Homo sapiens: one gene and its partners. The protein of the gene in region 2 purifies or fractionates together with the protein of the main gene of each other region. This does not show direct contact. Each region holds a gene or a part of one and is shown on either strand. Other genes may lie near its edges.

Region 1 (4,276 bases), on a different chromosome or scaffold from region 2:
TGTTTGAGGGTGCTGGCCAAGGGGCATGGACTGCTCGCCACCCAGGCTTGCTGAGCTTTCAGCACCCACCAGCAGACACACTGTCCCTTGGGGGAGGCAGGGACACACACACACACTCTTTGTTACAGACGCAGGAGCAGGCACGACCACCCAGCGTGCATTACTGTGGCATGGCTCCCCCTACCTCCAGAGAAGCAGATCTGCCTGAGTTACCCCTAGAGGCTCCTGAGGGTCCCCCGGTCCCCTCTCTGGAAGAGGAGCAAGGAGTGCTTTGCCAGTTTGGCCCTTAGTTCATATTTAGAGCTGTTGGCTTTTCAGCTCAACCAGCCTAGATGCCCGCATCCCACAATGTGGCCTCCAGGCTGGCCCCAGAGCATTCAGCACACCCTTCTGCCCCCTGACACCCTGCTCGGCTTGTCTGAAACAGGTCTCAGAGTGGCCTGGTACACATCTGGAGCCTGCAGACGCGGAGAGCGGTTACCACCCTGGATGGCCACGGCGGCCAGTGTGTGACCTGGCTGCAGACGCTGCCCCAGGGGCGCCAGCTCCTCAGGTGGGTCTCCAAGGTGCAGGAGCCAGGTATGGCCTTCGGGGGAGTCAGGAACTCTCTGATGGAGGCTCTGGTGTCCCCCACTGAGGGGCAGAATGGGGTGGGGGAACCAGAAGGGGCCAGCAAAGGGTCCGCAGCAAGGGCAGGGTGTGCAGGTCCAGCCCCTTGTCACAGGGAGGCAGGCAGGTCTGCCTCTGCATCTCCACCATCTCCACTGGACCCTTCATGCTCCAAGCTGGAGCCAGGAGGTGCCAGGTGAGGAGGCCAGAGCTCCAGGGCTGGTGACATCTGAGGTGAGCCCAGGCGCAAGTTGGTGGGAGGGCCTTCACAAGGGCACTGGGTCGTGGCTTGGGAAACTGGGCAGGGGTGAGGGCATTTGCTGAGAGGAGGGGAATGGGATGAAGTACAGGCTCAGGGATGCAGGCAGTGGTCCCAAGGAGGGCCTCCCTGCCCACTGCCCATCCTGCCTGGGCCGTGTGCCATGAGCATGGCAGGTCACACACGGTGCCGGTGGAGGCCCTAGGAGCTGGGTGTTCCGGCAGCTGAGCCCTGGCCGTGTGTGTCCCTTCACTAGGTTATGACAATGCACCTGACTCTTCCCAAGAGGACCCAGCCCCTGATGTTGTGCCACATACGGCTATGTGGCTGGCAAGATGGTGGCTGAGTGGCCAGGGGCGGGGCGCAGGGCTTGGGTGTATAGTGCTGTCCCACAGCAGTGTGCTTCTGCGTTTCTGAAGTGGGCGTGGTAGTGAGGGCCATCTCCCCACCTGGTCCCCCCTGCAGTGTCTCCTGTGGTTTCTACCCCTGCAGTCTCCTCCCTCAGGGCCCCGAGCTCACGTGTGTGTTCTGTACCCTACGCATCACTTGGGGATTACTTGTCCAGACTGTACCCCAGCAGGAAGGGTCCACAGAGGTGGCCTGTCCCCATTGGTATTCAGACCCCACTGTTCTAGCCTGTGCTTAGCACAAGGGCAGGTTTCTGGGTGCCCCCATGGTTCATGAGGCCTTAGCCCATCCCGAGACAGTGTGACCCTACCCTCCGTGACTGCTGTGCTGTCTGGCCAGGTGCCTGCTGGGAAGAGCCTAGTGAACGTATGGCGATGGCTGTGTCCCCATTGCAGTGTCAGCCTGTGCCTTCAGCAGAGCTCGCCCTGGCCAGGGGTCCGCATTGAGCCCAGGCCCCTCCTCAGATGAGCTTCTGCCTCTATCCCATGGGCCCAGGTCCCAGTCACCACAGCCCCTCTACAACTTGGCCTCCTGTGGCTGTCGCACCATCCTCCTGCATGGGTGGCAGAGCCTCATCCTGAGGTTACCCAGCTCACAGGGCCCTGCTTCACACGCTGGTGCAGCTGCTGGGTAAGCAGGAGGTGGCGGAGGAATAAGAGGGCCTGGCAGTCCTGGTGGGGGAGACCCCACGTGCTGCGGCCCTGGAGGGCCTGCCTCTGAGTGTGGTGAAGGACAGTGGGGCTGGGTGCTGGGCAGCTGGCAGCAGAGCAGGGAGGGGCAGCCCCCGAGGGTTAGCCCAGGGCTGGGTTCTGACATCGCCCCCGTGGTCTTGTGGAGGTGATGGGGCTGAGACACCAGGCCGGAGGTAGGCCAGGAAGCAGCAGACAGGGGCAGGTGCGTGAGGGGCTTCTCTGTTTCCCATGGGGAGTGGGAGGGACAGGGCATGGTGGGACAGGGAAGGCCTGCAGGGGGCTGACAACAAGTCCTCCTTTGGGCTGCCTGGATGCTGGAGCAGGCTATTGTCCTTGATCAGAGTGACATCTGCCCCTGTGTGGGGATCGCTGCCACCAGCCCAGGAATCCTGAGCACGGGCCTGCTGCTGTCCTGGGATTTGCCTTGCGTCATATTCAGGGAACTCCGTGCCATCACCATCACAGCCCAGAACTCCAGAAGGACAGGCCTGTTCTCCTGCTCTGGACTCGGTGCCTGGTTCATGGCACTGTGGAGTATAGTCCCTGGAGAATGAGGCCTGTCTGGCCCCCACCAGTCTGCAAAACATGTCTGTGCTAGACTCACGCGGTGCCTACCACCTGGGAGATGGCTGCAGGTGACGAAGGCACCAGGGTTGTCCTGAAGAGCAGAGGCCCTGAGCCTGTGTGCTTGCAGAGCCCCGTGTGGTCATGCCTGCATCCTGGCCAAGCCGACCCAGATCCCTCACCACTGGTGCAGGGGGCCTCAGAGTGGGTTTGGTCTTTGATTGTCAGAGTAGACTTCATTTCTAGAACCCCACCAGGCCATGTGCATCAGGAGCTGCTGTTTGTAAGTGTCCTCCTGAGTTTTCAGCCACAATGTAGCCCTTGGTGGTCCCTTGCGTAGGTGCCTTGTGGTATCAGGCTGTCCTGCAGACAGGAGCTGTGCCAGGCCTGGTGGGCGGTCTGGGAGCTGACGTTCGAGGGCACCTCCCCTTCCTGCTGGGATGGTGCTGTAGTGGCTGCTTCCCAGGCAGAGCCAGCCACGGGTCAGGGGGTCTGTGGACAGAAACTGCAGGTGTGGAGTGCCAGGTGCGTCTGCACTGTACTAGAGCCTGTGGGCCGCCACCCGGCCTGTGCTCAGCTGTGTTTGGAAGCCAAGTCTCTCCAAGTGGCCCTTGAAGGAAGTGATGGCTTTCATGTTGATGGGAGGTGGGAGGACGCCCTCAGCCTCCCGCATGCCAAGGACACACCTGTGCCTTCGACAGCCACCTCGGCAGGGTGTTTTTTAATCTTTTTTCTTGTGAAGTATAATGTACTCACAGAAGAGTGCAAGACAAGTGTTCAGAGCATTGTATTACGGCTGAGTGAGCACCTGAGCAACCACCTTCCAGTCAAGAAGTAGAGCGCAGGGCCCCCGAGCCTCTGAATCCCTGAGCTGCTGCCACCTGCTCTCCCTGGAGATAGCCCCTCATGCCCCAGGAGGTAGCCCCTCACGCCTCATTTTTGCTATATTTATGAATGTATGTCTCTGAAAAGCATAGACTATTTTGTCTGCTTTTTTCTTTGGAAGCGTGGAGACATAAGGAGCAGCATCTGTGTGTGACTTCTCTCACTCAACTTTATCTCCGTGAGCTCCGTGTGTTGCATGTAGCTGCAGTCAGCTGTCGCTGTTTTCTTTTTCTTACGTTTTTTTTTCTTTTTTTGAGACAAAGTCTTGCTCTGTTGCCAGGCTGGAGTGCAGTGGCATGATCTTGGCTCACTGCAACCTCCGACTCCCTGGTTCAAGTGATTCTCCTGCCTCAGCCTCCCGAGTAGCTGGGATAAGAGGCATGTGCCGTTACGTCCAGCCAATTTTTGTATTTTTACTAGAGATGGGGTTTCACCATGTTGGCCAGGATGATCTCCTGACTTCATAATCTGCCCACCTTGGCGTCCCAAAGTGCTGGGATTACAGGCATGAGCCACTGTGCCTGGCCCCTAATGGTGTCTTTAATGAACAAAGTTACTCATTTTAATGGAGTTGATTCAAGTCTGCCAGGCTTTCCCCTTATGGAGAGTGCCTTTGTGTCTTGCCGGGAGTTCCTGCACCGAGGTCCGAGAGACCTCTCTCCATGTCTCCCAGGAACTTTACTGTTGTCCCTTGTAGATCCATGGTTCAGCTGGAATTCACTACGGTGTGCAGTGAAGGCCCTGGGTTTCCATGTGGGTACCCAGCGGTCCCGCCTTCCCCCACCTCAGTGCCCCTTGGATGGGGTGGGAAGGGGGTGCCAGGCAGTCAAAGAAGCAGGGTTGGGGGGGTGGTGTGGCA
Region 2 (3,181 bases):
AATTTTTGTATTTTTAGTAGAGATGGGGTTTTGCCATGTTGGCCAGGCTGGTCTTGAACTTCTGGCCTGCAGTGATCTGCCCACCTCAGCCTCCCAAAGTGCTGGGATTACAGGCGTGAGCCACGGTGCCCGGCCTGACTTGTTATTATTTAAAAGATTTCAAGCCATAGGGAAGTCCAGCAATAGAGAAGACATAGCTGGGCCTTATTTCAGAGAATTTCTCCTGAGAGGCTGGCTGGATTCAAATCAGTGCACAGCTTTTTAGCTCTGTGACGATGAGCACGTTGCTTGAACTTTCTTTGTTGTAGGTGTCCATTTATTAATATGGGTTCATGCCTAGTATTTCCCTTTACAATTGTTGTAAAGGTTCAAACAATGAAAATGATTAAAAGGAGACTGGCACAGACTCAACCTTAAGCAATTGCTAGTAATATTGAAGGGAATTAACCACTTGTCTTTCTTACTTCTTATGTTAAGTTTTTCTTTTTCTTTTTCTTTTCTTTCTTTTCTTTTCTTTTTTTTTTTTTTTTTTTTTTTTTTTTTTTTTTGAGAGGGAGTTTCACTCTTGTTGCCCAGGATGGAGTGCAAAAATGGTGCGATCTCGGCTCACCGCAAACTCCGCCTTCAGTGATCTCGCTTCTGGGGGCATCCCATATTTTCCAAACTGCCATCCTATAGTGGGGTGCCCGTCGAGGCTGTGGGGAGACCCCGGAGAGATTTATGCAAAGGAGGACCCAGACAAATGTGCCCATTCAGCCTCTCAAGAGTGAAGAATGGAAGAGAGGGGGGCAGAGCCCTGTGTCTTCCGTGTTGCTGTGCGCAGGAGAAACATGGCCAAAGGACTGAGGTGGGGTGACAGGGACAGGCAATGCTAGAGATCCGAAGGTCACATCCTCGGCCTGTCCTTTGCACACTACTCCCTTGCTAGGCTCCCTGCTCCCGCCAATCTAGACAGTGGCGCAAGAGACTGGGGTTGCACTGGGACTCCAGGAAAGGCTTAGCTGTTGACGAAGGACCGGGGCGGGGCCGGGGGGCGGGGCGAAGGCCAGGATCTCCAGGTACCCGGAACCCCAAGGGGCGGGTGTAGCAGGCAATCTTGGCGAAACTGGGAAGGGCGGGCAGGAGGGCAGGGAAGCCGCTCACCCAGGCACAAAGCGCCTCCCGCTTGAGCGGACTCCAAAGGGACGGTCCGCGGTGTGCAGCGAGCTGCGCTCAGGGGACCTTGCGCCCGGCCCTTCTGCTGCACACAGCCCACCCAGGACCTCCCGCAGCGCTGACAGGCGGGGCGGGTGCAAAGACGGGGCGGGGTCTCTGCGCCCGGCCCCCTCCCCTGACTATCAAAGCAGCGGCCGGCTGTTGGGGTCCACCACGCCTTCCACCTGCCCCACTGCTTCTTCGCTTCTCTCTTGGAAAGTCCAGTCTCTCCTCGGCTTGCAATGGACCCCAACTGCTCCTGCGCCGCTGGTAAGGAACGCCGGGTTCCGTGCCTGGGGATGCTCGATTCCCAGACACCATAGAGAGTGTTCCTGGGTTTGAGAAGGTCGTATTTTGAGATCTCAACTGTAGGGGACTCCTTGACTTAGTCCAGTGCTTTCCTCTTGGCCAAGATCCTGAGAGCATTTCCTTCCTCTCTGTGCCTCTGTGTCAGCGTTGAGGGTACTGAGGCTCAAGGCTGTCCTGCTCCACGTCATGCGGTTTGTCCCAGGGCTGTTGGCTGAGCCCCAGTGCTCTGACCAGGCTTTGAGCAGCAGGATTAGATAGGAGGCAGGGGACATTGCCTCTTCGGGGTTCAGGACAGAAAGTCGAAGTCGCCGTCTTCCCAGGCTGTGCCTGGAGCCTGGGACTTTCCTTTGGAGTGCAAACAGGAGGCTGCTTGGCCTTCCCAGCATGAAGGGAGAGGACATGGGGCTTCTCTTCCTCTGCTCTGAGTGGGAAAGGAGCTCTGAGGGCTGGCCCCGCACAGAGGAGGGGGCAATGGAGACTCATTAACTCACTGCTGTACCTCCTGCAGGTCACTCGCCGCTCACTGGCTTTTTTTTCTCTTTCTCGCAGGTGTCTCCTGCACCTGCGCTGGTTCCTGCAAGTGCAAAGAGTGCAAATGCACCTCCTGCAAGAAGAGTGAGTGTGAGGCCATCTCCATGGTCTGGGGCTGTGGCTAAGGTTGGGATGGAACCCAAGGCTGGCCCTGAGTGCATGCTTCTGGGGAACTGGCCTTCCTTTGTCCCCGTAGGTTGTCACTGCCTTTCTAGTCTTCTGCCCTGTGCAGGGCGCCTGGGCAGCTTTCTCATAGGAAGACCCACCCCAGATATTTCCCAGTTGTCTCCTGACAAAGCCATACCCTCCTGAACTGAGGGTCCTTTGTGGCTGGAGGCTCTGTTGGGGGCCTCTGTTGGGGAGGGAGGTCCCTGGGCAAGTTGGCTGTGACCTCTCATGCTCCTCTTCTTCCCCAGGCTGCTGCTCCTGCTGCCCCGTGGGCTGTAGCAAGTGTGCCCAGGGCTGTGTTTGCAAAGGGGCGTCAGAGAAGTGCAGCTGCTGCGACTGATGCCAGGACAACCTTTCTCCCAGATGTAAACAGAGAGACATGTACAAACCTGGATTTTTTTTTTATACCACCTTGACCCATTTGCTACATTCCTTTTCCTGTGAAATATGTGAGTGATAATTAAACACTTTAGACCTGATTCTGACTTCAGTTTCCCTTATGTGCTTCAGAAATCAGAGACTGGGGTGGGGGATCGAACTAGGGTTGCAGACTCCTGGGCTCTAAATGGAAATCTGAGTCCCTAACAATCAGAGTGCATTAAGGCAAGCCAGGCTGCCTCACTGTGCTTCCTCTTCTGTAGAATGGAATAACACTTCATCAGGTCATTGGTGGGGATCCAGAATACAGGATCACCTTCATTCTCAAATGTGGCACAGAAACTTCTCAATGCCTCCTGTTCCTTCTCTGATTTCTCTGCCCAACTTCAATTCCTCTTTGGATTTCAGGTTAGAAAGTGACTACACGGAATGGAATCAAACCCCTTAGTTATTTGAATTCTACACCGGGCTTCTCAAACTCCAGGGTGAAGGAGGGGTTTTTAATTCCTATCCATTCCACATCTAAACCTTGGTAAATGAAATAATACTAATGATGGAAGTCATGAAATTAAATTCAATATACAAAATCTGGCCGAGCAGG
Region 3 (4,276 bases), on a different chromosome or scaffold from region 2:
CCATCTATCTATCTGATACACATCTAATCAGAAACCATGAGTTCACATTCTTCCTGCCAATTCCAATCCAACACCACAGATTTTCTCCCTTTCCATATTTTAACTCCTTTCTCTTAACAGTGAGAAACCTGGGTCCCATTATGCTTAATATATGCACTTCTTTGATCAGTTCCTCTGTAGGTAGCTAATCCTCATTACTGCCACTGCCCTTTACCCTTCATGAGTGCCTCTTTTACCCTGCGTGTGTCACCCCACATCAGACTGCCAGCCGACATGGATGCTCTCCACATCCCCCTCGGCTCTGACATGCTGCACCACACCTTCCCACTTCTGCAAGGATGTCTTCCTCACCCTGCCTGGGCTCTGACAGTGTCCCCCAGACCTCTCTGGCTCACCCTACTCCACCCGTTGTAGATATCTGCCCTCTTCTGCTGCACCTAATGGCTTTAGGATTGAGTTTTTCAGGAAGGGAAGAGGAAGAGCTACCCTCTGTTTCTTGACTTGAACTGAGCTTGGTTGTTAGAAGTAAGGGAAGTGTGGAATCCAGTAACTGCTGATATGTGGAGGCCTGACCTCCTAATGTCTACTCTCAAGACTTCCTACGAGAGAAGTTTTTTTGTTTTGTTTTGTTTTGTTTTGTTTTTGAATTATGGTCTTGCTCTGTCACCCAGACTGGAGTGCAGTGGCTCCATCACAGCTCACTGTAGCCTCAACCTCCTGGGCTCAAGTGATCTTCCTACTTCAGCCTACCAAGTAGCTGGGACTACAGGCATGCAGCACCCCGCCTGGCTAATTTTTAATTTATTTTTTGTAGAGATTGGGTCTCACTATGTTTCCCAGGCTGGTTTCGAACTCCTGGGCTCAAGCAATACTTCTGCCTCAGCCTCCCACAGTGCTGGGATTACAGGTGCAGTCACTGTGCTTGGCCAAAAGAAGCTTTTTGATGTAGATGAAATCAGGTGAGAAAGCAAGGCCTGCAGGCAAGAGGACCACTGGCCATCAGAATAGGGTATATATAGTATGCTCTGTCAGAGGTCTGGAGCATTTTAGGGTTGCAGAAGACATCGATATTACTCTCTGAGGCTGCCTTATGAATTAATTGGATTTGTAGGCCCAGAATCTGGGGATCCAGGCTTGGCCAGGTGGGCATAGCCCAATAGGATAGTAGTAATAACATTAGGATAATATATATTAGGCTGTTATATGCCAGGCACTGGTCTTAGTGCTTTACATGTGTTGTCTCATTTTGTTCTCACTTAAGGAGTAGGTGCTATTGTTATTGTCATTTTACAGATGAGGAATTGAAGAACACAGCATGCCCAAGGTGCCATGGGTAGTAAGTGGTAAAGCTAGGATTCAAACTTGGAAGCCCTCCTTACTCATCATGCTTAATTGCTTATAGTATTTGGTAGACAGGATTGACTGACTGTATATACTACGCATATTCTGTGCACACTGTAGAACATTAGGACTTTCAGAAGTCTTTACACTTTTTTATGGGGTTAGAGAAGAGTCTAAGTCCTTGAGGGACTTTGGATCCAAACTAGAATGGGTAATTTGAGCAGACTGGTGTCTTCCATCTCATTAAGGCTTCCAGTACTATTCAGGAATAGGCGATGAGAAGATTCTGGCTTTCAAAGGGATATTGGCCCTCTTGCCCTTCCAGGAGACTCCATATTGAAACTCAAGCCAGCGTTTGTCTACCTGGGCTGAGTTTTGGCTGTATTTTTGGTGAGGCTATAAAGCAGTGGTGAAAACAAGTGCTGTGCTTGTGCAGGATCCATGAAGAACTTAAAATATTTTTTGGTCTTAGCTCCACTGAATCCCCCTGAAATCTCATTATAGGGATAGGGAAATTGAGGACCTACACTAGCGTATATCCTACTATATATATAGGCAAGTTACTGTAGCTCATTCAGTGAGTCAGGAGAGAGATGGGAAGACAGCCATACTTGGCATTATCTGCTTCTGTTCAGGTGGTAGTGGCCTCATTGCCTTTGAGTACGCGCTGGACTTCACAGGGTGCTATCCCTCTACCCTATGTGAAGGGAGCCAGGTGCCCACTTGCAGCCATCAGAGGCAAGCCTTTGGTTGTGTTGGAATGAGGCTTCGGAAAGCACAAACTATGGCCATTACTGTATTGTACAGTGAGATTTCTTATTTGAGGATTAAAGTTGAGAGAAATTTGAATGTTGAGTATTAAAGGGAGAAAGACAACATTTCTGCTTTGTTCCTTTTTTCTTTTTAAGGAAGTTTGAGTTATTCGTGAGTAAAACTTAGGCTTTGATTTTTGTATTTAGTTAGGCCTCTGAGGAGCAGGCATTCTGCAAATTTAAGGGGAAAACTTAAAGGAAAAGTGATTTGATTTTTTTTTTTTTTTTTTTGCACATGTTCACTCAGAAAACTTTACTAGACTTTTAGCCATGTTCCTATTACTGCCACATCTGGGTTTTCTTTTTCTTCCCTATTTAAAAAGTCCCGCAGTCATTCAGGGCCTCGAGTAGAGACCGAGTCTAAGGCAGCAAATGAGAAGGCCTAAGGCTGCAGCCAGCTGTGCTCTCCAGGCACTGTTCATTCCCCCAGGGTGCCACTTACTAGTGTGGGGGTTGGGGGATCACCAGAATGTCAGAGCAAACCCCTGTGATTCGCTTTGTTTGCCTTCACCTTGGGAGAGGGGAGGAGGGTATGTGGAGACATCAAGATACAGACTGGAAAGCCAGGGGCAAATGGCTCCTAGTGGAGCTGAGAAAAGAACCTTGGACATTTTCTGCTGCTTGTCTGAGTCTACTTAGCTTCCAGGACTCATTGTACAACAGGGTCACCTCACGTTACTTTGGACCCATAGCTTTAATGTTAACTGTTGCCACCTGAGAAGTGACTGCACAATTTTTCTCTCTTCTCTCTTTTGAACTTTAGAGCTCCATTTAAAGATGCAGGCCAGTGTTGCATGTTGTTTTGAGAATGATCTGGGAGACTCAGAGCTGTAATAATGCTGCAGGTGCTGCTATTAGGGTCTTGAACTTTAGTAACGAATACTATGATTTAGAAAAGGGGCCCAGAAACACTGGGGAGTGGCCCATGTTGCGTGGATATTCCTGAAGACTAGATGGAACAGGGCCACAGTGGGAGGGAGTAACCCAGGCTCTCTGTTCTTTTTTTTTTTTTCTTTCTTTTCTTTTTTTTTTTTTTTTTTAAACTTTCCTCCCCTAAGTTTTAGATGCTTCTGGATGTTCAATGCTAGCACCTTTACAGACTGGAGCAGCTCGATTTTCTTCGTATTTACTTTCAAGAGCAAGAAAAGTGCTGGGCTCCCACTTATTTTCTCCCTGTGGTGTTCCGGAGTTCTGCTCCATATCCACCAGAAAGCTGGCGGCCCACGGCTTTGGCGCATCCATGGCGGCAATGGTGTCCTTCCCTCCCCAGAGGTATCACTACTTTTTAGTGCTGGACTTTGAGGCCACGTGCGACAAGCCACAGATTCATCCTCAGGTAACTGTTCCATCATTGCTTTAGAAAAGGTGGGGGGGGCAAGGAGGGAGGGAGGATAGTTTTGCTTCCTGGGACACAAAGGAGCTTTCTCATGCCTTCCTGTCTTTTAGCTACTCATTTAGAGTTCCTGTCTAGGAAGCAGGACTTGTTTCAGGTATGCTAGTGTAAGGTAGACCTGAGAAGTCTCTGGAGAGAACTGGGTACATTGTTTCTCTCTAGTCTCAGCTTTTGGGAATCAAAATATTTCCTTCTCCCGTCCTTCCTTTCTCTGTTCTCTTCTTTCCTCCATTCTCCTGCTACTGCCACTTGTTCCTTTAAGGAGTGCTATAGTAGCTGGCCTCCAAGATGACCTCAATGATTCTTAACTCCTGCTATTCACACCCTTGGTAGTTCCCCTCCTGCACTGAATCAAAGATATTCCTGTATAGCTAATAGAATACAGTGGAAGAGATAATGTACGACTTCTGAGGGTAAGTTATAAAAAGTATTGCAGTCCACTTTGCTCTTTTGGACCACTTGCTCTGGGGGAAGCCAGCTGTCATGCTGCCAGGACACTCAAGCAGCCCTGTGGAGAGGCACATGTGTGTAGGAACTGAGGCTCTTAGCCAAAATCCAGTGCCCAACTTGCCAGTCATGAGAATGAGCTATCTTAGAAGTGAATCTACCAGCCCCGGTCAGGCCTTCAGATGACTGCAGCCCCGGTGGACATGTGACTTCAACCTTAGGAGGGACTTTGAGCCAGACCAGCCAGCTAAGCCACTCTCAAATTCCTGACTCACAGGAACTG

Evidence for each region.
Region 1: the proteins of MT1F (region 2) and GNB1L purify together in Homo sapiens (affinity purification with mass spectrometry; one large-scale study listed by BioGRID and IntAct). This does not show direct contact.
Region 3: the proteins of MT1F (region 2) and ERI3 purify together in Homo sapiens (affinity purification with mass spectrometry; one large-scale study listed by BioGRID and IntAct). This does not show direct contact.

What each region holds. Positions count from the first base shown.
Region 1 is NC_000022.11:19,816,875-19,821,150, reverse strand, and holds part of GNB1L (guanine nucleotide-binding protein subunit beta-like protein 1), read left to right. Parts: intron 1-427; coding exon 428-553; intron 554-4,276. UniProt on the Homo sapiens protein: Acts as a critical regulator of DNA damage response (DDR) signaling via specifically regulating phosphatidylinositol 3-kinase-related protein kinase (PIKK) family proteins.
Region 2 is NC_000016.10:56,656,623-56,659,803, forward strand, and holds MT1F (metallothionein-1F), read left to right. Parts: upstream 1-1,336; 5' UTR 1,337-1,436; coding exon 1,437-1,464; intron 1,465-2,052; coding exon 2,053-2,118; coding exon of another isoform or gene 2,119-2,159; exon of another isoform or gene 2,160-2,160; intron 2,161-2,450; coding exon 2,451-2,542; 3' UTR 2,543-2,681; downstream 2,682-3,181. UniProt on the Homo sapiens protein: Metallothioneins have a high content of cysteine residues that bind various heavy metals; these proteins are transcriptionally regulated by both heavy metals and glucocorticoids.
Region 3 is NC_000001.11:44,338,258-44,342,533, reverse strand, and holds part of ERI3 (ERI1 exoribonuclease 3), read left to right. Parts: intron 1-3,211; coding exon 3,212-3,489; intron 3,490-4,276.